Linked DNA regions of Homo sapiens. The protein of the gene in region 2 purifies or fractionates together with the protein of the main gene of each other region. This does not show direct contact. Each region holds a gene or a part of one and is shown on either strand. Other genes may lie near its edges.

Evidence for each region.
Region 1: the proteins of FMNL3 (region 2) and WDR55 purify together in Homo sapiens (co-immunoprecipitation; one large-scale study listed by IntAct). This does not show direct contact.
Region 3: the proteins of FMNL3 (region 2) and PALM2AKAP2 purify together in Homo sapiens (affinity purification with mass spectrometry; one large-scale study listed by BioGRID and IntAct). This does not show direct contact.

Annotation. Positions count from the first base shown.
Region 1 is NC_000005.10:140,667,903-140,670,527, forward strand, and holds part of WDR55 (WD repeat-containing protein 55), read left to right. Parts: intron 1-331; coding exon 332-432; intron 433-512; coding exon 513-600; intron 601-709; coding exon 710-889; intron 890-988; coding exon 989-1,088; intron 1,089-1,176; coding exon 1,177-1,346; intron 1,347-1,430; coding exon 1,431-1,752; 3' UTR 1,753-2,625. UniProt on the Homo sapiens protein: Nucleolar protein that acts as a modulator of rRNA synthesis. Plays a central role during organogenesis.
Region 2 is NC_000012.12:49,651,799-49,655,452, forward strand, and holds part of FMNL3 (formin-like protein 3), read right to left. Parts: intron 3,187-3,654; coding exon 3,112-3,186; intron 2,505-3,111; coding exon 2,394-2,504; intron 2,077-2,393; coding exon 1,927-2,076; intron 1,530-1,926; coding exon 1,428-1,529; intron 415-1,427; coding exon 135-414; intron 1-134. UniProt on the Homo sapiens protein: Plays a role in the regulation of cell morphology and cytoskeletal organization. Required in the control of cell shape and migration. Required for developmental angiogenesis.
Region 3 is NC_000009.12:110,133,170-110,136,823, forward strand, and holds part of PALM2AKAP2 (PALM2-AKAP2 protein isoform 3 (PALM2-AKAP2)), read left to right. Parts: intron 1-2,957; coding exon 2,958-3,654. UniProt on the Homo sapiens protein: Binds to regulatory subunit (RII) of protein kinase A. May be involved in establishing polarity in signaling systems or in integrating PKA-RII isoforms with downstream effectors to capture, amplify and focus diffuse, trans-cellular signals carried by cAMP.

The DNA.
Region 1 (2,625 bases), on a different chromosome or scaffold from region 2:
GTCATTGATGTAACAAATATCTCCTCCACAGTGGTCCAGACCCAATCTTTGTCCAGGCTGGGGCTTTCAAAGATGATAAAGAGGGGTTGGGTGGGATCACAAAGAAATCTTGCGCAAATATACCTTGAACTAACATATATTGAAAAAAGCAGGACCTAACATTTCAAACTCACTGAAAATGGAGAAATGAGATGGTAAACTTTTTGGGCTTAGAGGTGTAGAAGCAGGAACTCTTAGGTAGGTGGGAAGGCTGCTCTGTCTAGTTGGTCTCTGCACTCAATGCAACCCAGGCTGGGTCTGGAGTCATTTACCCTCCTTGCCCTCTCCCCAGCTTTTCCTACTCTTGCCAAGAGGGAGAAACCAAGGAGCTCTGGTCATCAGGTCACCATCTCAAGGCCTGCCGAGCTGTGGCCTTCTCTGAAGATGGGCAGAGTGAGTACTGGGGAAGACAACCAGCAATGTGGTGGAAGGGAGCAGTGAGCAGCACCATGACCTGGGCACCTTTTCCCCAGAGCTCATTACTGTCTCCAAGGACAAAGCCATCCATGTTCTAGATGTGGAGCAGGGCCAACTGGAAAGACGTGTTTCCAAGGCTCATGGGTAAGGAGAGCAGCCAATTCTGTGTATGTGCATGGAGGTGAAGGGTAAGGACCAGGAGGTCCCCACTGGGACAGAGATGCTCCAAGAAGTTCTACATCTGTGTCTCTAGTGCCCCCATCAATAGTCTTCTGCTGGTGGATGAGAATGTTCTGGCCACTGGGGATGACACAGGTGGTATCTGTCTCTGGGACCAGCGGAAGGAGGGCCCCTTAATGGATATGAGGCAACATGAAGAGTACATCGCAGACATGGCTCTGGATCCAGCCAAAAAGCTGCTGCTGACAGCCAGGTACAACTTCAAAGCTGCCTTGCCTCCCCTCCCCTCCCTGTGTGAAATGTCTTCCTCAAATAGACCTTGCGTCTAAGCCTACTGCTCTACTCTCTACAGCGGGGATGGCTGCCTTGGCATCTTCAACATTAAGAGGCGTCGGTTTGAGCTGCTCTCAGAACCTCAGTCTGGGGACCTGACCTCTGTCACTCTCATGAAAGTACAGCTGGTTATGGTGGGATGGAGGGGTGTGTGCTGGGGGCTTAGTCTGAGGCAGCTTCCACATTGTTTTCTCTATTTCCCTGCAGTGGGGGAAGAAGGTAGCCTGTGGCTCCAGTGAAGGTACCATCTACCTCTTCAATTGGAATGGCTTTGGGGCCACAAGTGACCGCTTTGCCCTGAGAGCTGAATCTATCGACTGCATGGTTCCAGTCACCGAGAGTCTGCTGTGTACTGGCTCCACTGATGGAGTCATCAGGTGAGGGAAGCCTGGACAGCCCTTAGGTCACAGGAAGGGCAGACCCAGCTAGCCAGTACTCAACACTGTTCTTTCCCTGCCCAGGGCTGTGAACATCCTACCGAACCGAGTGGTGGGCAGTGTGGGCCAGCACACTGGGGAGCCTGTGGAGGAGCTGGCCCTCTCCCACTGTGGCCGCTTCCTGGCCAGTAGTGGCCATGACCAGCGCCTCAAGTTTTGGGACATGGCCCAGCTGCGAGCTGTGGTGGTGGATGACTACCGTCGGCGCAAAAAAAAGGGAGGACCACTGCGGGCTCTGAGCAGCAAGACTTGGAGCACCGATGACTTCTTCGCAGGACTGAGGGAAGAGGGAGAAGACTCCATGGCTCAGGAAGAAAAGGAGGAGACTGGGGATGACAGTGACTGAAGGAATGAATTGAATCTTGAGACGGGTCCTCACCAGGCAAGAGTCTTGCTTATTGGGCTGCATCCCCAGAGAGGATATGAATTATTTTTTGAAAAGACAGGGTTTTGCCATCGTCCAGGCTGGAGTGCGCTGGCTTGATCTTGGCTCACTGCAGCCTCAATGTCCCCAGGCTCAGATTGTCCTTCCACCTTAGCCTCTGGAGCAGCTGGGACTACAGGTGTGCACTACCACACCAGGCCAATTTTTGTTTTTTTTTTTTGGTAGAAACGGGTCTGTTTTGCCCAGGCTGGTCTTCAACTCCTGGACTCAAATGATCCACCTGCCTCTGCTTCCCAAAGTGCTGGGATTACAGGCACGAGCCACCACACCTGGCCAAAAAAATTTATATTTTTTGAGACAAGGTCTCACTCTGTCACCCAGGCTGGAGTACAGTGGGTTGATCATGGCTCACTGCATCCTTGACTTCCTGGGCTCAAGTGATCCACCTCAGCCTGCCTGGTAGCTGAGACTTAACAGGCATCTGCCACCATGCTTGACTAATTTTTGTGATTTTTTTTTGGTAGAGACCAGGGGTTTCACTATGTTGACCAAGCTGGTCTTGGAACTCCTGGGCTCAAGTGATCCTCCTGCCTTGGCCTCCCAAAATGCTGGGATTACAGGCATGAGCCACTGTGCCTGGCTGGATATGAAATTTTTTTTTTTTTTTTTTTTGAGACAGGGTTTCGCTCTTGTTGCCAGGGCTGGAGTGCAATGGCGTGATCTTGGCTCACTGCAACCTCCGCCTCCCGGGTTCAAGCAATTCTCCTGCCTCAGCCTCCCAAGTAGCTGGGATTACAGGTGTCTGCCACCATGCCAGGCTAATTTTTGTATTTT
Region 2 (3,654 bases):
CTGATTTTATATCCCTCCAAGTCCTCAGATAATGCCATTTTCCCAGCTTCTCCCTGAGGAAGACACTGCTGACTACAGTTTTGGTCCCCACAAAGAGGCTGCCCCTGTTGGCTCCCAGGGGTCGTCGTGGTTACCTGGTAATGGGGGAGGTGGAGGGGGCAAGGGCGGAGCTGGTGGTGGAGGAAGAGGCAGGACCTCCTCAGGGGGTGGGGCTGGAGCCAGAAGGTCCAGGTCGGAGGGTGGCATGCCCTCACTCAGCTCTGCAGGGCCTACTCTGGCCAGGGCCTCACTGTCCACAGACTCCAGGCCCCGGACATTTGGCTCCAAATGACATCGACGCTGAAAGGCCTCCTCCTTCTCTTTAATGAGCCTCCGCAGGGTGTGCACCTGGTGGCTTGTGTTCTCATATGTCTCCTGGCAGGCAGACAGCACCATTAAGGGAAAAGTGGGCTGAAGGCATAGTCATTGCCCCAAGAGTGAGAATTCCTACCCAGGGTTCTCTTAACGAGGGTCTCTGTCAGGGTACTCAGAGGCTCAGAGTGGCAGAAACCCAGGTGGGGGAATGAGGAAGCTGGAAGGCAGCAAAACAAAAGAGGCAAGCAGAAGCTGCCTCCCTCCGCTGGCACCCTGAAGTGTCCTCTCTGCTCCAGCCAATTCTCACTGCATGGGCCCCTCAAAGCCCAGGAAAAAAGGTTGCCCCTGTGAAACTCTCCTTAATCTACCACCGGTCTGACATAGCGGCTCTCTCCATAACCCTTTGGGCCTCATTTTGCTTTAATTTCACTTGGCCTTGTATAATGGCTCAATTGGAAGCCCCCTATAAACAAGACCCTGTCTTAACCATCTCTGTATCCTCCATAGCTCCCAATACAATGCTCAGCAGAAGCTGGGCAGATACATATTGAGCTCAACAGAGCCAGCATATATTCTTCTGAAAGAGAAAGTAGGATGGGGGCATGACTTTATAATGAACAAAAAGTCAGGAGAAAATACAGAAGAGAATGAAATATGAAGAGTACCTGCCCTGCCAATTTAGGATACCTGGTGGACATCCTAATACACAGAGCACTTGGTCACTCTGCCCCTGCTCATTAAACATGGCTGGGGGAGGAACACGGGGGTAGAGGGGAGAAAAATCAATGGGATGGGCTGGTAGGAGGAGGCCTGGGTTGGAACTCCAGAATGCTTGTGGGTGCCCCAGCTGTTCCCACCCTCTTATGTGTGTGTCTGGCTCACACTGGCCCCACCTTTCCTCTCCAACTAAAAAAATGGGGTGAAATCATCAGCCCACCCACACCTGAGTACCTCAAGGGTGAATCAAGATCTAAATCCTAGAGAACTTGATATGACTCAGGGAAAAAAAGCAGAACCCCAAGGCGCTGGAGCCCAGGATCAGTCAGGGACTGCCTTCCCCAGAGTACTTGTACCTTGATGCTCTCTAGTTCCTTCTCCCGCTGTAGCAGCTGCTTCTCTAGTTCTGCCACCCGCATCATGTTTTCATTCTCTAGGTCCAGAAGCTTCTCTGTGAGCTGCACAACAGGAAGGGCAGGTTCTGTGCTGGCCCTAAAGCCTGGGCACTCAGCACAGCCTGAACCCTAGTCAAGACCTGAGTCGGACCCCTCAACACAAGGCCACAAAGGCAGCTTAGTCAGGTGGTTCCCTTATATTCCAATAACAGATACAAGACAAAGGCCACATTCTGACTGTCTCAAGACCAATGCCACCTCATGCCCAGCCCTGGAGGTCGATGTGTATTCCAACTGGTGGATGATCCAGTGGCTCAGGCCTGAGTATGCTCTTGAGAGCCCTGGTGGGTTCTAAAGCCTCCCTGGGACTCAATCTGGAGGCAAATGGGTCAGCTCAGGATTCCTGGTTACTTGAGCTTCCATCAACAGTGGCTCTGGCAGGCAAAGGAAGACCACCTACATGGGACACATGCTCCTCCAACTCCTCCACCTTCTCCAGGGCTACATTCTTGGTCTCAGCATCCTCCAACAAACCCCCGACATCAAACACGTTGTCCAGATATGCCTGAATCTGCACCTGCAGCTTCTCGCTCTCTGTGTGCCTTGACTTCTGGGGGAAGAGCAGAGAGTAGGAGTAGTTGTAGGAGCAGGCAGATCATCAGGGGAACTTTCTGAGAAAGTCTTAGTCCTCATCCCCCTTCGCCACCACTTCCCAAAGAGTTCCTGCTGCAGGCCATGTCAGATTCTCGCCCCCATGGAGCTGCCTGACTGGGGAGTTAGCTGCAGAGGTCCTGAGTCCCAGGCTACAGAAGACAGGCAGGGTCCCAGGAGCATCAAGGATTAGGCACTTATAAAAGAAAAATCATTTGTGATACGGCTAAACTGATCCCAAAGCACCTCACCTTACAAGGACCCCAGCCAGCTCACCTGCAGGAACTCCTCTAGCCCCAGCTTGGTAAACTCATACTGCAGGTGGACCCGGAAGTTCATGTCCTCCACCGAGTGCACCACGATGTTGATGAACTGCATGCAGGCCACCTGAAGAAGAGGAGGCCCAGAGAAGCAGCAACAGGAAGGGCAGAGGAAAGGCAAGAGACCAGGAGGATAGGCGGCTGTTAGAATATCATCATCATGTGGATAATTACAGGGAGTCAATTAAAGAGTTAAGTCTTTATGGGGGCAATAAGAGTATTTTAATTTTAAAAATGTCATTTAATATTCAGTGTATAAAGACAAGTAAATTACATGAAAAACAGATGTAAGTGAAGATATAGCTATCTGATTTCCTTTGTACATCAACAGGTATTCCTCGAGACAACCTTACCTAGCCAAAGACCCTGCAGTGAGGGGAAGAGAAGCTAGAGGAAGAGCTTAGGAAAGGGAGGGCAGCTCAAAAAGGATCCAATTCAAGGACAAAAAGGCCACAGAAAAGAGGAAAAGGAGGTAGATCTGATATACACAAATGATATCCTGAAGTTTCTAAGAGCTCTCTGGGGTAGGCAGGTGGACAAGAAGCATTTGCTGAATAGAATCATTCTGGGCTCTACGTGGAATATCAAGATACGCTGTTGGCCTCACCCCTGTTGTCAAGGAACACACACACAGCCCTGGTGGGTATGTGCTGGACCCAGGCCCAGTTCCTCACCATGAAGTCAATATTGCTGTCCTCATTCCGGAAATACTCCATCAGCTTCTCAAAGCGGTGCAGCTCCTTGCATACCTGAATGAGCAAACTTTCTCAGTGAAAGGATCTGCTCCATGCAGAACCCAAGCCCCTGCGCTCTGGCTCCTAGGAACATCATGGCAAAGGACTGGTTCAGACCAAGCTTAACCACAGCTCTATATATGAAATAGGCCATTCTGGACACTATAAAAGAAAACCTGGGGCCAGGCGCGGTGGCTCACACCTATAATCCCAGCACTTTGGGAGGCCGAGATGGGCACATCACCTGAGGTTAGGAGTTCAAGAACAGCCTGGGCAACATGGTGAAACCCCATCTCTACTCAAAATACAAAAATTAGCCGGGCATGGTGGCACATGCCTGTAGTCCCAGCTACTTGGGAGGCAGAGGCAGAAGAATCGCTTGAACCTGGGAGGTGGAAGTTGCAGTGAGCTGAGATTGTGCCACTGCACTCCAGCCTGGCCACAGAGTGAGACTCCATCTCAAAAAAGAAAATAAAGAAAACT
Region 3 (3,654 bases), on a different chromosome or scaffold from region 2:
ATTCATCATCGAGCACTTGAAGTGTGAAACATTCAACAGAAAGGGATAATGCTGATGTGAGGAGCGGAAAAGTGTTCTTGGGAAATGGCTTTGGAGATAAGCCCCATCACTCCTTCCTCTGTGATTAGCAACAAGAGACAAAGAGAAGCAATTTCTTCACTTGCCTGATTCAGACTAAGAAAACTCTAATATAGACTTAGGGCTTTCTTGGAAGTACAGAGAACTCATTTTTTTTTTAAAGGGTGTTGTCTTCTGGAGCTTATTGTTGCTGCTAATTTCATTATGACCCTGCAGAATAACCTCCCCTCATGTTTAATGAACGGATTAATTAATTAAACTATAGAACTAATTATTTGCCTTTTAGTTTCCTTTACTATTACGTTGCCCTTCTTCCTCTCCTCAGGTATTCTAAAGCATCTTGTGTTTCAGGAGAGCAGTGTTTTCTAACCATATTTCAGTCCTACCAGCTTCCTACTGATTTCCCACTACCCTCCGCCCACCCCGGCCCCCAAGCCAAAAAGGATAGAAGGAGAGCTCTGTTGTTCCCATGCAGAATATTAGCAGTGAGTCATTGGCCAAAAGAAGCCAGGGGTGAGGGTGCCATAGGTAATCTGACTCATCTTAGCAGTACCGTGAATCTCTCTTTGTTTGTCTTCTTATTTCAATAATAATTTTCCATGGAGTGGGCTAATTTTGGCCTAGGTTTACTTGAAATTGAATGGCAGCCAGTAAGTTTCAGCATTCAAATTTTGTGTAATGCTTAATGATATATGAGTAGAAGTTACTGACAATGTCTCATCCAACAAAAAGTTTAGTTAATAGTTTTAAAAGGGCTGGCCATGCAGGGTGGCTCATGCCTGTAATCCCAGCACTCTGGGAGGCCAAGGCTGGACTGCTTGAGTCCAGGAGTTTGAGACCAGCCTGGGCAACATAGCGAGACTCTATCTCTACAAAAAATTTTAAAAATTAGCCAGGCATGGTAATGCCCACCTGTAGTCCTAAGGGAGACTGAGGCAGGAGGATCCCATGAGCTCAGGAGTTCAAGGTTGCAGTGAGCTATGATCACATCACTGTGCTCCAGCCTGGGCAACAGAGCAAGAGCCTGTCTCTTAAAAAAAAAAAGGAAGGTGGTGGCAAAAACTACTATTTAATGATGGTCAAAAATAAAAAATAAAGATATTAGCAATTATAAATATTAATTGTGTTAAGTATCACTCCTTAACAAAGACCAGACCTAGACTGGAAGAAAATCAGAGAATGGAAGATGTTGACAAAAGAGGAACACTCATTATTTGTGCCTGTTAATGGAGAAGACATATACATTACTTGAATAATTTAAGTCTGAAAGGAAATGTGGAAAGTGAAGAGTGAAGGAAACCCCCCAGTTCATGGATAACTCAGAGAGTTTTTCAACATTCTGACAGCAGTGTAGAGCACTTACGATGAACTCCAGTGTTTTCTTAGGTCTCAAGAACAAATCCATAATTATCCACTTTTTTGGGAAGGATTTTGAAATTAATTTCCTGAGAATCGTCCTAAGGTGGTGTTTTAATATTCTAAGCATTTAAAATTGTTGAAACCTTAGATAAATGAAAATTACACTCTCTTGCAATTTTGCATTGTCCTATGTCAATAATACCAGGCACATTATAAACTTGAGACAGGGAAACAAAGCCAACCTAGGTGTTGTAAGGTCCTTGATGGTAACTCAAATTAAGTTTATACTTTACTGGAATTCTTTGAGATAAGCCAGAGTCCTTTGATATGAAAAAGAAAATCATCTTATAATTTGAAAATTAATGTTTCTAATGCCAAATAACAAAATTACATAGGCTAGATAACTGGTAGAAAAATAAGATGGATGGGTTGGGTGTGGTGGCTCATGTCTGTAATCCCAGCACTTCGGGAGGCTGAGGCGGGCAGATTACTTGAGTACAGGAGTTCAAGACCAGCCTGGGAGACATGGAGGAACTCTGTCTCTACAAAAAAAAAAAAATATATAAATATATATATATATATAAATCAGCCAGGGGTGATGGCACACACCGGTAGTCCCAGGAGGTAGAGGTTGCAATGAGCCGAGATGGCACACTGCACTCCAGCCTGGGCCACAGAGCAAAATCCCATCTCAAAAAAAAAAAAAAAAAAAAAAAAAGCCCTCAAGACAAAAAACCTCCTTCCTTAAAAAAAAAAAAAAAAGAAAAATATGATGGGTTTTAAAACATTAAGAAGATAGGGTTTTCTTATTGAATCACAAACTGAAGATATCACATATAAAGCAGTTAAAAAACTGGAGGAGAGGTACCATTGGCCATTAGTTTTTCAAAGCAGTGCTGACTTCTTAACTAAAGAGTATTATTTTGATGCAATCCCAGAAAACAGAGCTGTGCAGTCAGTGGCTTTGGTGATGGTGTTCATAAGGCACATGGTCAATTACAGCCATGGCAGTGAGGCACTGTAGCCTGTGTGCTGCCATTAAAGGGATCTACTGTTTTCCAGTATTTTATTCTGCAAAGATTTTCCAAAAAGTTTCTTGTCTCCAGAATAACTGCATTACATCTGGCAGAGAGTCATATGTTTTAAAGATCTGTTCATACAAAAGGACCTTCTTTTTGCAATCCTATTAATAGTCGTATTGCACAGCCTGCAATCATTTGCCGCAAAATACTTGGGAAGACTCTGGTACAATAATGATGTAATCTCTTCCACCTTAGTAGATAAAATTTAAAAATGGCACTAGCATGTAAACAAAATGGAATCCATAAATTAGAGAGGATTGGGCACCTGTTACTACAAGAAAATGAACATTTAAGGGATTATTAGAAAATATCTATTCAAAAGAATTTGTCACTGTGGTTTCCATTTTCCTTCCTCTTAATTATGAGTCAGTTTGTCAGCATTCACATCCATAAGAGATGCAGTATTTAACCCTGACTTTTGTTTACTCTTTATTCCAGAAGCCTCCCCAGCTTTCTGAGGATGATATCTGGCTAAAAAGCGAGGGAGACAACTATAGTGCCACCCTCCTGGAGCCTGCTGCCAGCTCTCTTTCCCCAGATCACAAAAACATGGAAATTGAGGTGTCTGTTGCAGAATGTAAAAGTGTTCCTGGAATCACCTCTACCCCACATCCCATGGACCATCCCTCCGCTTTCTATTCACCCCCGCATAATGGCCTCCTTACTGATCACCACGAATCCCTGGATAATGATGTTGCCAGAGAGATCCGCTATCTAGATGAGGTGCTAGAGGCCAACTGCTGTGATTCTGCTGTGGATGGAACGTACAATGGAACATCCTCCCCAGAGCCTGGTGCAGTGGTTCTGGTGGGCGGCCTAAGCCCCCCTGTCCACGAGGCGACCCAGCCAGAACCCACTGAAAGAACAGCTAGCCGGCAGGCACCTCCTCACATCGAGCTCAGTAATAGCAGCCCTGACCCCATGGCAGAGGCAGAAAGAACAAATGGCCATTCCCCCAGCCAGCCTAGAGATGCGCTGGGGGACAGCCTGCAGGTGCCTGTCAGCCCCAGCTCCACAACCAGCTCACGGTGTTCTTCCCGAGATGGAGAGTTCACTCTCACCACACTGAAAAAGGAGGCCAAGTTTGAGCTGCGTGCCTTCCATGAGGACAAGAAGCCCTCCAAGCTCTTTGAGG